Homo sapiens: one gene and its partner. The protein of the gene in region 2 interacts with the protein of the main gene of each other region in a pairwise test. Each region holds a gene or a part of one and is shown on either strand. Other genes may lie near its edges.

What was found. The genes of interacting proteins can lie anywhere in the genome.
Region 1: the proteins of SLAIN1 (region 2) and TFAP2D interact in binary tests that used the Homo sapiens proteins (3 or more experiments, as listed by UniProt).

The regions. Positions count from the first base shown.
Region 1 is NC_000006.12:50,723,484-50,727,232, reverse strand, and holds part of TFAP2D (transcription factor AP-2-delta), read right to left. Parts: intron 1-3,749.
Region 2 is NC_000013.11:77,695,660-77,699,408, reverse strand, and holds the start of SLAIN1 (SLAIN motif-containing protein 1), read right to left. Parts: upstream 1,723-3,749; 5' UTR 1,496-1,722; coding exon 870-1,495; intron 529-869; exon of another isoform or gene 486-528; coding exon of another isoform or gene 352-485; intron 1-351. UniProt on the Homo sapiens protein: Microtubule plus-end tracking protein that might be involved in the regulation of cytoplasmic microtubule dynamics, microtubule organization and microtubule elongation.

The DNA.
Region 1 (3,749 bases), on a different chromosome or scaffold from region 2:
TGTCTTTTGGTCACCCAAGTTTTCCTTGCAAGTGCTGGAGACCAAGATCTTTCTCCCTAAGCATTCTAAAGTCCCTCCAAAAAACAACAAACCAACAAAAACCAGAAGAGTAATCAGTGGGAATGTCAGGGTAGCCAACCATCTTCAGGCTAGAAGTTAGGTCCTGTGCACTCTGCCAAAACCTCCATGACAGTGTCTGAAAACCTGTTCGCAGTTAGAAATCTGAGAGTTCAAAATCTCAATCGTCAAATTAAAATCCATTTCTTGACATCAAACTTGTAGCCAATACAATGGCAAACCATGTAAACACCTGCTTTAGGAGCTAAAAACAAATTCTCCTGTACTTCCCCCTCTTCATATTCTCACCGAGTTTTAAGCCAAAATACAACAATAAAAATGTTCCCCCAGATTCCTGGACCTAAGACTACCATTTCACTTTTGTTATCGGTTTCACTCTGTACTTAGAGATGCAAAATGCATTTCAAAAAAAAATCTTAAATGACTTCTTAAAATTTTAGATGAACAGGAAAGCAAGGTAGGTATTAATGAATCTGTGGTGTAGAGTCATACTGTGAGAATTTTGATCCTGATTATTTTAGGAATTAGATAAGTCTACCCCAAATATATTAAACAAAGAGAAATCAATGTCTTTATGCAAAATTCACATAGCCCTCTTCTAAAAATGGATCTCTACTCACAGTCACTATAAATCATAAGCAAATTGATATTCTGACATAAACTTTCCTCTCTTGCATACTAGCCAGTATACAAATGAGGACACAAGGAATCTCACACAGTTGCCAGTTAGCTTCAAGTTTATGATAAGTGAGAGAACAGAGCGTTTGAGTATATGTATGAATTATTTTCCTGGATGCTAAGGGTAGGGAATACCACAATTTTAGAACTTTCTTATCTTTACTAATCTTCAGTGGATTAGAAACCTAATTTAGGGAGATGTAGATGATTATCATTTTTAAAAGAAGTTGTTAGATCAGGCTCTCCCCAACTGGAAGACTTTTGGCAAAGTGAACCTTATGTGTTGAAAGCCAGCTGCTCCCAGGGAAGCCACTGAGTCTGCTATCTACCCACGTGCTAACTCCCTGGGCCCAGAGTCTCCCTCTCCTACATCTAGGTTGGGCTTCTGGCTTATGCTCAAGTAGACATTTATTAGGTAAGTTACACAAGCTGCATATTAAGAGTATGCTTTATGCACACACAAATTGCCTGAAGGATTTATTTTGTATTCAGGATTAGCCATCAACTCTAGAGTCTTTTATTTTTTATGTCACAGCATCTTTAAAGGGAATTTCTGTTGCTTTGATACCTGGCATTGCTGCAACCTTGGGGAACTCTCTAGTCCTGGCTAAAGATTTGGCAACTTGTAGAGTTTACAGCAACTTGGGGAACCTGATATCTTTCTTCTTGGTGATTTATTCTTTAGAGAGGTGGAAAAAAGTAGTAGGTCAATATCACCAGGGTTTTGCCTTTAGATTGAAGGTGCTGAGGGAGTGATACTTCTTTAAGATAATCCAGACTACAGATGGTAATGATGAGATCTCAAAGAAGAATGTTATGAAACGTTGGCCCACACCAAGCCATTTACAGTAGTCATCCCCAGTGTTACTACTTGAACTTCCTCATGGTGCTTGTGTTGCATGTCAGCTCATATTGAAATTATGTGATAATCATTCTAGATTCAGCATCACAATTAAGAATGTCTTTGATTCTATAGCCAGTGTATTCATGCAGAACTTCTCCAGAGTTCATCCCTTTTCCATATACAGTTCACAGAAGCAATACTTTCACAAAGTTCACTATTTTTAAATTTGGAATTTGGAGATAGGGCTCTCTATTTTCAGTGATGCTGCAAATTCTGATGGGTAGCTATGGTAACAGTGGTAAGAAATCAGAAACTATCTGCTCAAGGTCCTTTGCCTAGGACATGGCTTTCATTAAAAGGGATAACTTTGCCATAGCTACAGGAAGAAGTCAGCCAGAGACTTCTGGCTCAGGTGTGACAAAACTAGCACAAAATACATGGATGCAGATCCTCCAGCTGCCATATCTTGTTAGATCTTATTCGGTTTGAAGAAGCATGGGGTGGCTTTACCTTGGCTGCCTTGGCATAACAGGGGACATCTGGCCAGTGTCTGCAGACAGTGTGGGGCAGTGGAAAGAGTACCGGGCTACAAGTAAGAATTTGACCAACTATCGACTCACGCAACTTTGGGCGAATGACTCTGGGTCTAGTCTGTCCATCTAAACAATGAAGATGCTCACACTTGCTCTACTTATCTCCCCACCTTGTAAGGAGGTGCAATGGGAAATGGATGCACGCACGCTCGGCAACCTGATTATAGGCCACCCAACCCCGCCACTTTTTTTTAAAAAAACAACTACCCCGTTGCAGGGTGTGAACTGCGGGGTAGGACAAGACAGGTCCCCCCGCCGACACACACACACACACACCCCGCCACCGTCTGTGCTGCAACTGGATGGGAAAGACAAGCGCCGGAGCCTGGGTGAGCTTTTTCTCTTCTCATCCCAGGCTACTGGGGCAGAGGAAACAGCGGCGGCTGTCTCCAAGGAGCCGCGGGTCCCTGGAGCCTCTAAATCTGCCTCTGAGCCATACTCACGGCCTCCGCGCCTCCCCCGTCTCAGAACGCACCCAGCTGTGGCGAGAGGTCCCGCGCGCTCTCCAGGTGCGATCAATACTTCCTAGCGGGCTTCCGGGCGCTGGGCCGGTGCGCGCATCCTCTCCAAAGCCACAGCGCCGCCCCACTCGTCGTAGCGTCGGTGTTGACATAATTAGACCAAATCTTGAGAGCAAAATAAATGATCTGTTCGCCTTACAGCCAAACAGATGTTTACAATTCAAATGAAAGAAATACAAACGGCAGGGATTTTTCTTCTCCCCTTCTTCATCTCCAGTGATCGCTCTTTTTTTTCTGACACATTAAAAATGTGTAAGCGATTACAAGAGTTTCCTGTCCCTGTTTGTTCTGCGGTTGCATTTCTGCGAGGTGCGCCTGTGAGTTGGGTGGGGAGAATTATTCTCTGCTGCTTCCTCTCTAGCCTCTCACCCTTCCTAACCCTCCTCCCCCATGTTACCCCTCCCCCCATGTTACCTCTCCCCCCACGGCAGCAGATATTAATTGTAATCAAACAGCAAAGGATGCGGACTTAATTGGAATCAAGTAGGCCTTTGATGATGTGTAAGGAGCGAATTGTTTGGGGGGAGGGTATAACATTACAGGTATAGCTGGATTACCAGGGCCGAATGAGCTTCTCCTTTTGTAGATTCCAGGCAGAACAAAAGAGAGGTGTGCGTGAAGAGACTCGCTGGTTTAATGTGGCGGTAGGTGTGTAATGGTGTATATTAGGGTGTGTGTATGGCGGGGGTTGGGGGGAGATTAATCCCCATTCCCCAGTGCAAAAAGTGTTTTGGTTTCTGCTGATTTTCAAAGCAGTTAAAGAAATTAGAGAAAAGGCTGTAGGCTGTGGGAAAGCTACCTCTTTCCCTCTACAACCCCCAACGCCCACAAAGATTTCCAACAAATCATGCTTCTGGATGCTTTGGTACAAGAGTTTTAGATTTCATATAAAGGAGATTGAATTTCAAACCTGCAGAATCTGCACTGGGGACTAAGGAGGCAGGCGAGGCTTGAGGTGTATCTCTGGCTCTATCTTCACCCATAATGGATGAACCATAGAGATGAGTTTTGGCTAGCGAGAGTAGTGATTCCAGG
Region 2 (3,749 bases):
TGTCAACTGAATAAATGCTGTCAGCCTCAAGTTTTCTGATAACCAAGCTAAAAAGTTTCCAAGAAATAAGAAAATAAGGCTTCTCTAATCTCACTTTTCTTCTACAGTTTAATTTAAAAAATTAAAGACAGTTCGTTGGTTCCTAGGTAAAAAAATAAATAAATAAATAAAAAAGTCCCTCCCACCTGTTCATTCCACTCCAAGAAAAGTCCTCTTTATTGGCACTATTTATGGGAAAGCCAGTGAGGTCACCCCATTTTAAAAAGCAAGTCAGTCTCTGAAAATAAGATTTCAATGAAAATGCAACGCAAAAGGGCACACGACTGCAAAATTCAAACAGCAAGAACGAACCTCTCTATAAAGAGAGATCCATCACTGCGCGGCTTCCGATGCCACCCGAGGAGGAAGAGCACGCAAATCCTGTCCAGCGTTCGTTTAAAACGAAAGAACAGTAACAGTCGCAGACAGAGGCCAACCCCTACCATCCCCCGTCATCCCTCCGAAAACACTGGGGAAAAGAGCAGCACTGAGCAAAAAGACAAGATGACATGGATTTTGCACTTAATGCTAACGAGGAGCTTGGGACCCAACAATCAGCAAATAGCAGAACCCATGGCAGATGGGGGGAAGGGGGGGCCGGTTCATCCGCAGTCGGAGCGATTAGAAAACAGGTTTCTGCCTTCATGAGAAGCCTCATCGTGGGAAGTGTCACCGCCTGGCTCAACACCTGCTGGGTCGGCCCCTCCGGGAGCCGCGGGGAGTCACCCCGGCTGCCGCGAGGGGACCCCCGTCCGCCCCCCGCCCCCGCTCCCCGGTGCCCGAAGCCCCCGAGGCCAGGGTCTCGGGGAAGGAGCGGAGCCAGGCAGTACCAGGTGTAGTCGTCCTCGTCCCGCCAGGCGGCTACGCTCTCCAGATCCAGCAATTCCACCTCGTCCAGCAGCGTGGGGGGCGGCGAGGGCGGCGCTGCAGCTGCCCCTGGCGGCGTCCCCGCGCCCCCCGGCTCCGGCCCGCCACCGCCCGCGCCGAAGAAGCCTGCTGCCGGCTTGAAGTAGACGAAGGGCGCCTCGGGTGGCTGCGCCAGGCTGCAAAGCAGGGAGGGCGCGGGGCTAGGCAGGCAGAAGGTGCCCGGGAACGCGGGGCTGGAGCCACCGCCGCTGCCACTACCGCTGCCGCCACCGCCCCCCGCGCCCAGCGCCAGCCCGAGCCCCAGGCCCCCTGAGGCCGCGGCGGTGGCCGTGGCGGCCGGGGGGCTCCGAGGACCCAAAGGCTGCAGGCCAGCGGGGGGCGGCGCGGCGGGCGGCGGCGGCGGCAGCAGCAGCAGGTGCGGGGCGGCGGCCGCGCTGGCCGCTCGACTCCGCAGCTGCTCGTTCTGCTTCTCCAGCTTGCGCACCAGCTCCTGCAGCTTCTTCACCTCCAGCTCCGCGTTCACCACCGGCCCGGAGCCCGCTCCAGAGCTGACCCCTGCCGAGGCGCATTTCACCTGCTCCGCCATCATCGTGGGCCCCGAGGGCGCCGCGGCCGCCGGGGAGTGCGCGCCGCCGCGCCGGCTCCTCGGGCCACGGGGAGGCTACGGCTCCTTCCCTGTCGCCCCGGCCTGGGGGGCCGACCACGCGCGGGCTGAGGCCGAGCCGGCGGTTCGCATCAGCACCGGGCCCTCGCCTCCGGCCGCGGCAGCCACCACCGAGCTGATCTGCACATGCTCAGTGCGTCCCTCCAGTCCCCTGGGCGTCGCGGCGGCTCCGGGTTTTAGCCGCGGCCCCGGAGCGGGGCGGGGCAAGAGCGCCGAGGGGGCGGGTGGGGGGGGGGGGGCGGAGAACCGTGGGGAAGCCCACCCAGGGGGCGGGGCCGGCAGCCCGGGTTGGGGCCGGGGAGCCGCACCCACCCTCGCTACCTAATCCCAGGGGCCTGATTGGACCTGGCCTGAACTTTCCCGCCACAAGCACCTCCTCCTGCCGCTTGGTGGGACAGTGAACTGCGCGGGTCTCTGAGGCGGTTGCGGGGACCAGGGGGTTCCCAAAGAAGCAGCTGCAGGTGCTGGCCCTCGAGTAGTGCACCACCGGCCCGCTGGTTTGCTCCCTTCCCAGCTCTCTGTTAGGCTCCGTGACAGCACTTAATAGCCACTGGCTAACGAATCCTATAGAAAACTTAAAGGCTGGGGATCGTTATTCTAAAAACCGAAAAGTGGAGATAGGGGGAACAGAAAGGCTTTGGGACCATGCCACTCATGTTCTCATTGGTAATAGAGAAGCAAAATGGTGGGAGACAGGAGACCGAGAAGAAAGAGAAGAAAGCCCTCTCTCTAAGAGGTAGAGTGGCCAGCTGCTAAGGAGACAAGTGTTTACTTATTTATTCTAAAATAGTCAAATTTGAACTGTTACCATCATTGTTTGTCACAATAAAAGAAGAACTGCTTTTTTTTTCATACTATGTATATTCATGCATTCCCCAAACAAAAGATCTTTGAGCACCTACTCTGTGCCAGGAACCATTCTAAGAGCTCGTGATGCGGGCAATGAGTACAATAGGCAAAAATGGTTATGGGGAGAAATATGAGTAAAATTGTTTAGTGCTCCTTCTATTAAATAATGTGTAAGTTATTAAAGTCAGACTTGCTGGTGGGAAAGCAGAAAACAGAAAACCTCAGAATTCTACCCAATACACTTTAATCTCACCTGCAAACCTGCTATTTCTTACCACTTGGAAAACGAGCAAATCTGCTTTTTTTAAAAGAGGCTTTTAAGCAGAAGAATTTAATCGAGTTGTGTTCAATGAATACTGACTGACTTAGCATTTTGAGTGTTTAACACAATCAGAGGAAAACCTGAGATTATATTATGAGAAAAATCTACACCACTGGTTCTCATCCTCAGATGATATACTATCTAGTGAAAGTCCTTGCTAGGGACTTTACATACCAATCTTTGTGACAATGTACCTCATTTCTCTGGAGCTGCTAACACATCGTATCTATTGGTTTCAGATATGGTTTTGTGTCTTCCTGCTCAGAAACACTTGTATCTTCTCAGTTGTTAATCTACATCTCTAGCTTCTGTGTGCAGGGTGGATGTTCTGCATTTAACATGCTTGGTGAGCGCTTCCATAAATTAGCTAAATGCGTGTGATGACTCCCTTAACCTTCCCTGTGTCCCAGCTTGCTAGCCCACCACCTAACCACCTGTATCACCCATCACCTTTCCAAGTTTCGGTATATCTTTAGGATTTTTTTTGGTTATTACCAAAACCTGGAGAAATGGAGTAATACTACTGAAAGTCCTAAGTAAAGAATCTATTGAAGGATTTTTCCCGCATGCTCAGTGGCAGATGCGGGTAGCAGTATCTCCCTGCAACACAAAGAAAGGGAGACGACAGACACAATGAGAACAAAGAGCTGCTGGGTCCCAGACTAGAGAAAGAAATTGGGAATAGGCACATAATAGTGAAGACAACAAGAATTAAGATGTAAAGAAAAGCCGTCATTTTACTGCACAATTTATATACACTCTAAAGAAGGAGAGAAACAGACAGCCCTTTCCTCCTTCATTTACCCAATATGGTCTATATACATCCAACAAGCAGTAGCCAAGCTTTTGAACCCTGTTTTCTAAGTAATAATTATCATAAAAATCTTTGTTCTTTAAAAAGAAAGCATGCATTGAAATTTAGACATAGAAAAGAGATGAAACATTGTTTTACAATTCTAGTCTGCATTATTCTTCTGAAAAGACAAATTTGCCCTTTTCCTACCTATT